Homo sapiens: one gene and its partner. The gene in region 1 interacts genetically with each later gene. Each region holds a gene or a part of one and is shown in the gene's direction. Other genes may lie near its edges.

Evidence for each region. Genes that interact genetically often act in the same process or in processes that back each other up.
Region 2: changes in HAPSTR1 (region 1) and TMEM273 together harm fitness less than expected from each alone (positive genetic interaction), as found in Homo sapiens cells (one large-scale study listed by BioGRID).

What each region holds. Positions count from the first base shown.
Region 1 is NC_000016.10:9,100,623-9,105,819, forward strand, and holds part of HAPSTR1 (HUWE1-associated protein modifying stress responses 1), read left to right. Parts: intron 1-302; exon of another isoform or gene 303-407; intron 408-2,361; coding exon 2,362-2,637; exon of another isoform or gene 2,638-5,197. UniProt on the Homo sapiens protein: Acts as a central player within a network of stress response pathways promoting cellular adaptability. The E3 ligase HUWE1 assists HAPSTR1 in controlling stress signaling and in turn, HUWE1 feeds back to promote the degradation of HAPSTR1.
Region 2 is NC_000010.11:49,163,476-49,168,672, reverse strand, and holds part of TMEM273 (transmembrane protein 273 isoform 2 precursor), read left to right. Parts: intron 1-710; coding exon 711-764; intron 765-1,663; coding exon 1,664-1,804; intron 1,805-2,876; coding exon 2,877-2,907; intron 2,908-3,311; coding exon of another isoform or gene 3,312-3,389; coding exon 3,390-3,468; intron 3,469-5,197.

The sequences.
Region 1 (5,197 bases):
TCCCAGGTTCAAGTGATTCTCCTGCCTCAGCCTCCCGAGTAGCTGGGATTACAGGTGCCTACCACCCATGCCTGGCTAATTTTTGTATTTTTAGTAGAGGCGGGGTTTTGCCATCTTGGCCAGGCTGGTCTCGAACTCCTGACTTCAGGTGATCCACCCACCTTGGCCTCCCAAAGTGCTAGGATTACAGGCATGAGCCACCATGCCTGGCCATCTTTCTTTGCACTCTCCAAGCCTGCTTCAGACTTGTTTCTTGTATCCCTTTTACTATGCTTTAGACTTTTTTTCCTCTGTTTCTGCAGGGCTGGGCTTACCTCCATTTGGCTTTTGAAGAATAAAATACCCTCATTCTCTTCAGAAACAGAAACTTCTTCATTTACAAGCTTGATTAAAAGCAATTCTTCTAGGTAGGATAGGTTTAAAAACCTGATTGCTTCTAGGTTAACACATTTTACATTTATCCTTTATGTGGTGTGATAAGTTTAGTTGGTCAATGACTTGATTTCTCTTAATGCCTCCAGCTCTTTCAGAATCATTTAAGTTTTAGGTACAGCACTACAAGGTCATCTTTAGGTTTGTCCACCCCTTTAGGGTTGGCTCATCTAAATCTTTTCCTAAAGAGATGGGAAAAGTGGTGACCCTCTCTACTGTTATTTACATTCAAAATGGAGTTCATGCTTTGTTTATGAAGAAGTGAGAAATCAAAATTATTGATTCATGTTATACCAGTAGTGAGACACTGGAGAAGTTACTTCACTCTTGAGCTGCTTTTTATATTTGTAAAATTAGAATAATCCACCTTCTCAGAGTTGTGATGGAGAAGATATGAATGCACTCTATAGCATATCAGGTTTCCAAATTGATGTTGAATTCTTGTCCTGGTCCTTTTCATTTTAAAGTATTTTTTCTTTCTTTTTAACATCCCAGGTCCTACTTTGATTATTTTTTTAAGAGAAAAGATCTGTGGACAATATCCTTGTTTTTCTTTGTCTTTAGCAATAAAGACTGTCATCTGCTTAAGAGTAGGCCTTATTATAAAGTTCTGGTTGTTGTGCTTCCCTCTTGCCATTTTCTTTAATAGTGCAAATTCAGCTTGGCATCCTCTGTGATGTCTGGATGATTTTTTTTTTTTTTTTCTGGAACATAGCTTTACATTGTTTGACTATTGCCCATCCTTTGAGAGTCTGCTGTAGATGTAGCAGACAAGAAATTAAAGCCGCCGGTTGCAGTGGCTCACGCCTGTAATCCCCAGCACTTTGGGAGGCTGAGGCAGGCGGATCACAAGGTCAGGAGTTGAAGACCAGCCTGACCAATATGGTGAAACCCGGTCTCTACTAAAAATAGAAAAATTAGCCAGGCATGGTGGCGTGCGCCTGTAATCCCAGCTACTCAGGAGGCTGAAGCAGGAGAACCCTGGAGGCGGAGGTTGCAGTGAGCTGAGATCGAGCCATCGCACTACAGCCTGGGCAACAGAGAGACTCCGTCTCAAAAAATAAAATAAAACGAAATAATCAAAGCCGGGAAAAGTAATAGAGAAATGTACACAGTATTGTTGCTTTTACGGAAAGTTCAAGGATAAAGTAACGATGTTGGTTAATGCCATTAAAGACATACTGGTGATGTTCTGCTGGCACAGCAGCTCAATTAAAACTAAATAATAGTCACTTAAATTTTCAAATTTTTTTTCAACTAAATGAAACCACTAAAAGGTAGAGATCATTTTACCAAAACCCAGGTGGAGTATATGCAGAGAATTTAGTCTAGGAGATCTGTTGGGAATGGTTGAGTTACAGGAAGCTGTTGAGAACTGGAAGCAAAATGAGTATACCCAGGGAAATGAATAAAGCTTTTTGTTTTCCACCATGCTATTTGGTTTTAGTGTTGAGCCATCAGTCAGAATTAATTTTTCCTTCTAAAACATTTGCTGCTGCCTTCAGCTTGTTCCTCATTCTTGGTGCTGAATCTGTCAGTAGGAATGTATCTCCACAATGACGTGGTAAATGCAGATGAGCGTGGCCTGAGGCATGTGCAATATTTAGACATCTGTTGAATGATGTGATGCAAGTTATTTTAGGTAATTTCATTAAAGATACCTAATCTCTCTGTTTCTGTTAAATTTTTTTTTTTAACAAGCCAAGCTCCAGGACTGTGATAAGTAAACACTGAATTTAGACCATTAAGATTAAATGTTACATATAACATTTTCATTATGACTGAAATCATTTCAGTTTATATTACTGATGGGCTCAGAGGCCACATCATGGTATTCACTTTGGTTAAATTGTAAAATGGTTTTCTTTAGAAGGGAATACGGGCTCTAATGGTCATGATACATGTTTTCTTTTTCTTTTTTTCTAACAGAAAGCGTGGATACCCATCAACGAAGTTTTGATATTGGAATTCAGATTGGCTATCAGCGACGCAATAAGGATGTGTTGGCTTGGGTTAAAAAACGCAGAAGAACTATTCGTCGAGAAGATTTGATCAGCTTCCTGTGTGGAAAAGTTCCTCCACCACGAAACTCTAGAGCTCCCCCAAGACTGACTGTAGTGTCCCCTAACCGAGCTACTTCAACGGAAACTAGCTCATCTGTAGAGACTGATTTGCAACCCTTCCGGGAAGCCATAGCTCTGCATGGTAAAGCCGTTTAAACATATTTCTTTGGAAAAATGGTTAAGAGGGTGCCTGTGGACCCATTTTTCACGGTTAGGTTTAGGTCCAGATATACTGTTTTTTGTCTTACAGTAAACAGCTTGCTCTAGAAATGTTTAATAGAATGTAAGCTAAGAACTTAATATGGGCGATTTCTGTCAGCTAACCTATCCTAGAAAATGTTTTTAGAAAGTTAGTTTGAGCTTATTGGTGTTAAAATGACATATCTTTCTGCAGTGTTGATTAGAATTTATCGCTTTACACTTATGTGTTGTACGTGTTTTTTTCCTCTTCTGAAGTCAAAGAGGAAGTTCTTGTGTCTTAAGAATTCTGTTATATTTCTAATGGTCCATGACAGGCAAGTAAGGTGGGAAATTGTTGGGTTAGTTCTCATGGGACCTGGGACCTCCCTTGACACCTTTCTTACTTGGTTTGCTGTAGATGGTGGGAGAGGATGGATGTAAGACTTGACCTTCTGCCTGTCGTCCCTCAGGTCCCTTGCACTTTAAGAGGCAGGACCAGCAGAGTGCAGCCAGTGGGCAGGTGGATCTCTATCTCCCCAGGCCAGACCTGTCATAAGAAGGCACTCTTGGCTAAGGGATTTTAGTATTGCTGGAGAAACCCGGGAAATGTAGTCAGTGATAAGTCTGTTGTTGCTTGTTGCTGTCTAATACAGACTTCCAAATAGAGCTGGGAGAGTTAACCTGTGTGACAGCATTGAATACTGCTGTAGGAAAAAAAGCAACAGAATAATAAGACTTGCTTGAAACCATGATGGAAAGATGGATCACGCAGATGGCTAAGCAGGTAGAAGTAATTAGGTCATGAATCCTTTTTTTCTTTTTTTTTTTTTTTTGGAGACGGAGTTTCGCTCTTGTGGCCCAGGCTGGAGTGCATTGGCGCGATATTGGCTCACCGCGACCTCTACCTCTGGGTTCAAGCGATTCTCCTGCCTCAGCCTCCCGAGTAGCTGGGATTACAGGCATGTGCCACCACGCCGGCTAATTTTTTAGAGACAGGGTTTCACCGTGTTGGTCAGGCTGGTCTCGAACTCCCAACCTCAGGTGATCCGCCCACCTTGGCCTCCCAAAGTGTTGGGATTACAGGTGTGAGCCACTGCGCCTGGCCATGAGTCTTGTTGAAAGTTAACATTTTTGGGCCATAGTACAGGTCATCTAAAACAAAGTAACCTGGTAAGGTACTAAGAAATAGTGGCATATAAAGAAACTTTATAGACGTTGAATCATTGAGACTTTATAATACCTGTAGAGATCTTGTTCTCTCTGGCAAACCGTAGTTCTTTCCTGAAACCCCAATGTTGTTTTTTCCCTTGATAGTGTTTAGGACAATTAAAAACAAAAACATGAATTGCAGGAAAGTTCAGGTTGTGTGGATGCAGTACTTTAAGACTGCACACTGTTCCTGACACAGTGGAATAGTTAGGCTGTCAGAACTTTGGAAGCTCAGGCAAAAATGGGATTGATCTGTTTATGCTGAATTAGAGAGTTTCACATCTTTCCCCCTAAAGTTTGGGAAAACAATTAACTAGAGGTGTACATAGTTTGTTAGATTAATTTTAGCGCATGGTAATATTTGATGCAGTTGTCTCTCCTTAAGTATTGTGATTTTCTTCCTTTATTAAGAGGGTTGTGGGTCATTCCATGCTTCTCTTAAGGTATCTTTTTACTCTGTTTTACTGTTATATTTTAGAAGATAGTTTTAAGAAACATAAAAACCATGCTTGTTATCTTAACGTAGTAGTAGTGTACATAATAGTAAAAAGGGCAAGCCAGCCCCCTCTGCCCTCGAAAAACTGTATTCTCCAACTCCCACTACATTTTCTCATATTGAATCTGTTCCACCTGTGATTTATTGTTTTCCTGAACTTTGGGAGTTTTAAGCAATGATACAGTTGAAGGGACTGTTTATAATTTTCACATGTTTAAGTTGTGAGGCTTTAAAACTTAAATATAAGGCTTTGTCTAGGAAGAAAATGATCTTTACCTTCAATAAATTTATAATGTAGCACTAATCCAGTATAGATTGGAGACTGAATGCATTCTTACTCTTAGGGTTCATACCTCTAATTCATGTGGTTAAGACAGTGTTGTGGTGAAGTAATAGGGCCCCTTGAAAGAATCTACAGAAACATAAATTATACTGAGTTGTGCTGTACTGGTTTGTGAGAACATCAGTGTATTAAGGAGAATGGTAGTTTAATTTGAATATTTAAAGAAAGTAATTTGAATGGTTCTAGTACTAGGGCCATTATTAACTAGTAACATAGATTAGTGACTTCAACTGGGTGTCCTTATTATCTGATTTGTCTGAAGTGAAAACTGTTAAGGTGCTCTTTTAAAATGTATTTGGAAACACCATAGTTAGGGTAAATACAATGTCACAATTCACTCTTGCATATTATTTGCTTAGCCAAATTTATGAATTCTAAGTTAGGCCAAATTGAAGGTTTTGGAGTTTTACATTGTGGGTGAGTCTAAATTCATGCGTTTGGCAAGCACAAGGACATGGGAAAAGAATCTGGTAT
Region 2 (5,197 bases), on another chromosome or scaffold:
CTTCCTTCCTTCCTTCCATTCACCAATGTCTATTAATGCCTCCTGTGGGCCAAGCACTGCATCAAATGCTGGACACTATACCACGCAGCCCAGAGCGAGACCAGCCAGAAGACGTATTGATGTGTTAATATGTGAGAAGCTTTTAGGATGGAGCCTGGAGCAAACTAGTGCTATGTAAATGTTGTTACATATTGACATGGTCAGTTATGGCCGGCAAGCACCACGGCTACGGAGCACACTGGGATCAGCTCACCCAGGTCTGGGGAGTCAGGGAGGAAGTGGCATGGAGCCAAGACCAGGTAAAGGAGGAAGGGAAGAAGATGGGGTCAGGCAGAGGGTGTGGCCCTGAGGCAGGGCAGGAGATTCCCTGGCTGTGTGGGGAACTAGAAGCACCAAAGCCATGCTGGATTAAGGAGGGCCTTGGGAGCCACAGGGGAGCTTGTGGAGCAGGCTTGGGTCAGAGTTCAGGTCTTGGAAACTGTGCTGAACGGCTGACTGAAGTGCATTGGGTGGAGACGCGTTCCTGGTCTGAGTTTTGAGGGAAGCTCTGATGTCTCAGCAAGGCTCCAAGACACTCCATGGCAATTGGGAGCCCACCTCTGTGCTCCTGGTGGGTACATGGGGTAGGCTTTCCCAGGCCTCTGAGACTGGGTAGCTGGGACCACAGCCAGCTCTGTTCTAACCAGGCTCTGGGGTTTCTTTCTTTGCAGATGTAGGAGGAGCTCAAGTGCTGGCAACAGGCAAGACCCCTGGGGCTGAAATTGGTACGTGGCTGCCCATGTTATTCTGTGCACAGGGTCAGGGGCAGGAAGGAAGCTCCCAAGACAAGCAAGCAGAGGGCCGCAGTGCTGGAATTGGTTCCCTGCTGTCAGCATAGGAAAAGGGGCACCCTCACCTCCAGGTCCCCCAGAGCAGCTGACAGCTTTATTTCGGGGGAAAGGCCTTGCATTAAAGCTCGTCCACACAGGGGACGTGATACCTCAGGGCCACAGATGCGTGGCTCCAGCACCCACTGAGCCCTGTCCCACAGCCATGGGCCCTGACAGCATGCTTTGCCAGGCTCACAGCCCTCATCGGTGCCTCCCTCCACCTGCGAGCTTCCAGCCTGTCTGCCCCTTAAGGGCCTCATCTGCTGGCCAGGCTCAGTCTGCATGCCTCACCCTCTGAGAAGGCTCTGGACGCCCATGACTCTAGGCCAACCCAGCCTCTCCCGTCATGAGCTCCTTCCCTGTCCTCCCCAGCTGACTGCAGGCTCCTCAAAGGCCAGACAGGCCTTATCCATTCTCCTGCAGTGTTCACCACAGAGCAGGCAATTAACACACACCCAATAGATGAGTGGATGAATTAACGAAGGGATCAGTGAGGAAGGGCTAGGAGGCTCAGGTGGCCAGAGAAATGAGCCACTCACCTTTTGGGCAGGGGTAGCCAGGTGAGCTTCAGGGAGCCTTGAAAGGTGGCAACAGTTTCTACAGCTGAAGGAGGGGATGGGGTGCAGGCAGAGGCTAGGAGCAAAGGGACTCATGGGAGAGTAGAAGGTGAGGCTGGCCTCAGCCAGTGGGAGGTGGTGTGTTAAGGGCCACATGCATGCTTTGGACCTCATCTGGAATGCAGAGGGAGCTGCAGGTGACTGAAACCGGGTGTTCAATTCCTCCCTGCGTTTCAGATTTCAAGTACGCCCTCATCGGGACTGCTGTGGGTGTCGCCATATCTGCTGGCTTCCTGGCCCTGAAGATCTGCATGATCAGGAGGCACTTATTTGACGACGACTCTTCCGACCTGAAAAGCACGCCTGGGGGCCTCAGTGGTGAGGGATGTGGTGCTCGGGCCTGGCTCTGCCCCACCCAGCGAGGCACCGAGGGCCACTCTGTGATGCTGGCTACAGCAAGAATGAACCCACAAGCGCAGAGCCCAACAGGCTGTAAAGGAAGGCAGTGACCTCTGCATGTTTCTGTCTCTCTCACTAACCCTTTGCCTCTGTTTCTCTTTCTTCTGTCTCTATCTCTCTCTGTCTCTCTATTTGTGTTCCTTTTTCTGTCTCCCTTTCCATGTCTCTGTCTTTCTGTGTCTCTTTCCCTCTGTACTTTTCCTTTCAGTTGCTCTTGGCAGTCCTGAGAATCACATTTCCTGGAGAAAGGTGGGAGAGGAACTAAAATTGGCTTCACACAGAAATTTCTGTTCTCTCATCCAAATGATGAGATCAAATAAACCCAGTCCCAGTAGGCAGCGAGGTTGGTCCTAAGTGTGGGCGGATGGTGGGAGGTTCTGTTGACACTGCCTTTGTGGGTCAAGATGAATTTTTTTTCATAAATTGGGAAAGTCCTTCTCAAAGCAGTACTGAGTAGGCCCTCAGAGAGAAACTGAGCTGGCTGACATGCACCATGGCACAGCCCTCTGCCTCCTTGGCACCCAAAGTGCAGTATTGATTTGCATCCCTTCTCTCAGGGTATCATCCCCAGACTCATCCTCTGTTGTATTAGATGGCTCACTGCAATGACGGTGCAGTTTTCCATGGGGTGCTTCTGGGGAGAATAGAGCCTCACTGCCTTCCTGGAAGACGTGATTATGATCCGTGAAGATAAGCAGAAGGGGCTGGTCTGGGCCGGGAGAGGAGGAGGCTTCCGAGATGCTGGCGTGTGCATCGCCCGAGGGGCTTAATAGGCCATGGGAGTTTGCTTATCCTTGAGTTTGCTTATCCTTGTGTATCCCCACAAATAAGGGGAGGAAACAGCCTCTTCATCACATAGCAGCCAGGCCCCGGGTCTCTCGAGGGCAACCGTGAGTGAGAGGACCAAGGAGAGGGAGGTGAAAGCTCTAGGGAATGCTCTGCACCTCTTGTCACACGACCCCCTTCCTAATGCCCGGCTTTCTCTGTTTAGACACCATCCCGCTAAAGAAGAGAGCCCCAAGGTAAGGTCACTGCCCACACAGTCAGGGAGAGGTATCGTGTTCTCTCCTGTCTTGACCGTGCCACTCCCTTGCCTGTCATCCCCAGCCTTCTCTGCACTCTGGCATGCTTTCTAGGTGACTAGAATGCACCTCGTGGTCCCCTCCTTACACTCTCTCCTCCTCTGGACCAGTGGGCAGGTGTCACAAGAGTGAGGGCCACAGGCTACAGCCGTCAAAGGGAGTAGGGCTCGCCTCTGCATAGCCTGGATTAGATCCTGTTCCACCCCCACTCAGACCCCTTCAGTGCATACCCCTGACTTTCAGAATGAGGCCTCCAGCCCCTGTCACTTGGGAGGTCACACGTGGTTTGTCCCAGGTTTCTGGGCTTCCCTGCTGGCATCAAGGTACCCTGCTCTTCTGCACAGAGCCCACGTCCTCAGGGACGGTCCTGCCTTGGGACCTTTGCACTTGCTGTTTTCTGTAATTGGAATGCTCTTTGCCAGAAAGCTGCAAGCCTCGACCCTCTTTTCCTTCAAATCCCTGCTTCAGTGTCACCACTGCATCATGGAGGGCCTATTTAAGGTACAATCCCCTCTCGACTCCAGCCACCATTCTCTTCTCTTTGCTTGGCTTTAGTTTTCTTTATAATTCTTTGCACTAGTTGATGCTATACGATATATTGATTTGTCTATTTTGCATGGGTTTTTTTCTAAAATGTAAGCTCCGGGCGGGTAGGGTCTTCCTTTTCACTTCTGTAGCACAGCACTTAGCACAGTGCCAGGGACAAAGTGGATACTTGCATATGTGTTGAATGAATGAATAAATAACTGAACATGAGGCCATGGGCTAGGTGCTGGGGGTCAAGGAGAGAGAAGTAGGACAATCTCCCCCAGTCTACAGGGGAGACAGGCAGGTCCCAGGTGGTGGCTGCACAGTGGGGGTGGGGGTCCCGGGAGGTCTATGGCAGGCTAAGCATGTGTTGCCTTGTGTCTTGGGGGTGCAGAGGGCTGCATAGCCACTAGGAGGTGCAGGGGAGCCTCAGGCTACGTGCGGAAGGACTAAGAGAAGCTCATGAATGCAGAGGGAACCCTAGTATATGTAGGCATCATGGGTAAAACCTGCCGCTGACAAACATGCAGTGTGGCAGAAGCAAGTGTTTCATGTGACGATATGGAAGGAAGCGCTGGAGAGATAGGTAGTTTCTATGCATGTACAGTCAGAGGGGCTTGTGTTAAGCAAAGGAGTCTGAAATCTGTCCTGAAACTTCTGGTCACCTACAGATGGGTTCTAAGCAGGGGAGAGAGAGAATATTTTTTGTTATATGGTGGCATGGAGGAGGGCCCAGCTGCAGCCAGGAAGATGTGCTGGAAGCCCGGACAGAGACTCAGGCCTGGTGCAAAGCCCTGCTGGAGTAAGTCCAGGTGGAGGCAATGGAAAAAATGAAAGATGGGAACAAAGTTAAGGAGGAGCTGGCCCAGGGACCTGGGATGAGGGACTGAGACAGCCACTGGAGGAGAGAAAAGAATCTAGAACAGCTCAGAGTTTTCTCTGAGCAGGTGCCCTTTGGGAAGTTGGTGGGGGAGCAGCTTTGGGCAGTGAGCTGGGTGAGATGATATTTTTTTGAACATGGTGAGCCGAAAGTTTCTGGACACTTCCATGTAGAGGAGATGTCTAGTAAGTGGCTGGCATTTAGGACAGAGGTCTGGGTTGACACAGGGTTAGTGGCTTTTAGAAAGTACCCAGAGCCCAGTCTCACCCTCCAGTTCTTCCATGGGACCAGGGACTGGGTAACTTCCAAGTAGTGTCTATTGAAGGAGCGGATGGATTAATGGCTGCATGAGGGATGAACGCATGGTGCATTGTGGCTGCGGGTCATGACTCATCAGCCCTCATGGAGTCATGCGCTTGGGATGAGCTGGACATGGATTTTCTTGAGAAGTTCACTTTTTTTGAGGATTTCTCCTCCTACAGATATTCTAGTTTTCAGCAGTGGTTTCTGATTGTGAAGCATTAAAGCACATTTCATCAACTCTGTCTCCCAGCACCCCATCTCTCCTTCTGTTTCTGACTCTCACTCTCCTTCTCTCTGTCCCCTCCCATGTCATCCCCCCACCCCAAGTTTGTGTCAGTCCACTGGGTCCTGGGCTGGAGAAGACAGGATATATAACTTATCATCCAAGACAGCACTTTGTGAGAGTGAGAAGAGGCTCTGTAAAAGTTGCACCAGGATGATAGGTGTGAGCCTGGACTGTCCTAGGGAAATAGGGATGTGTGGTCAACTTAGATTGAGTGGGCCTGTGAAGTGTCCAGG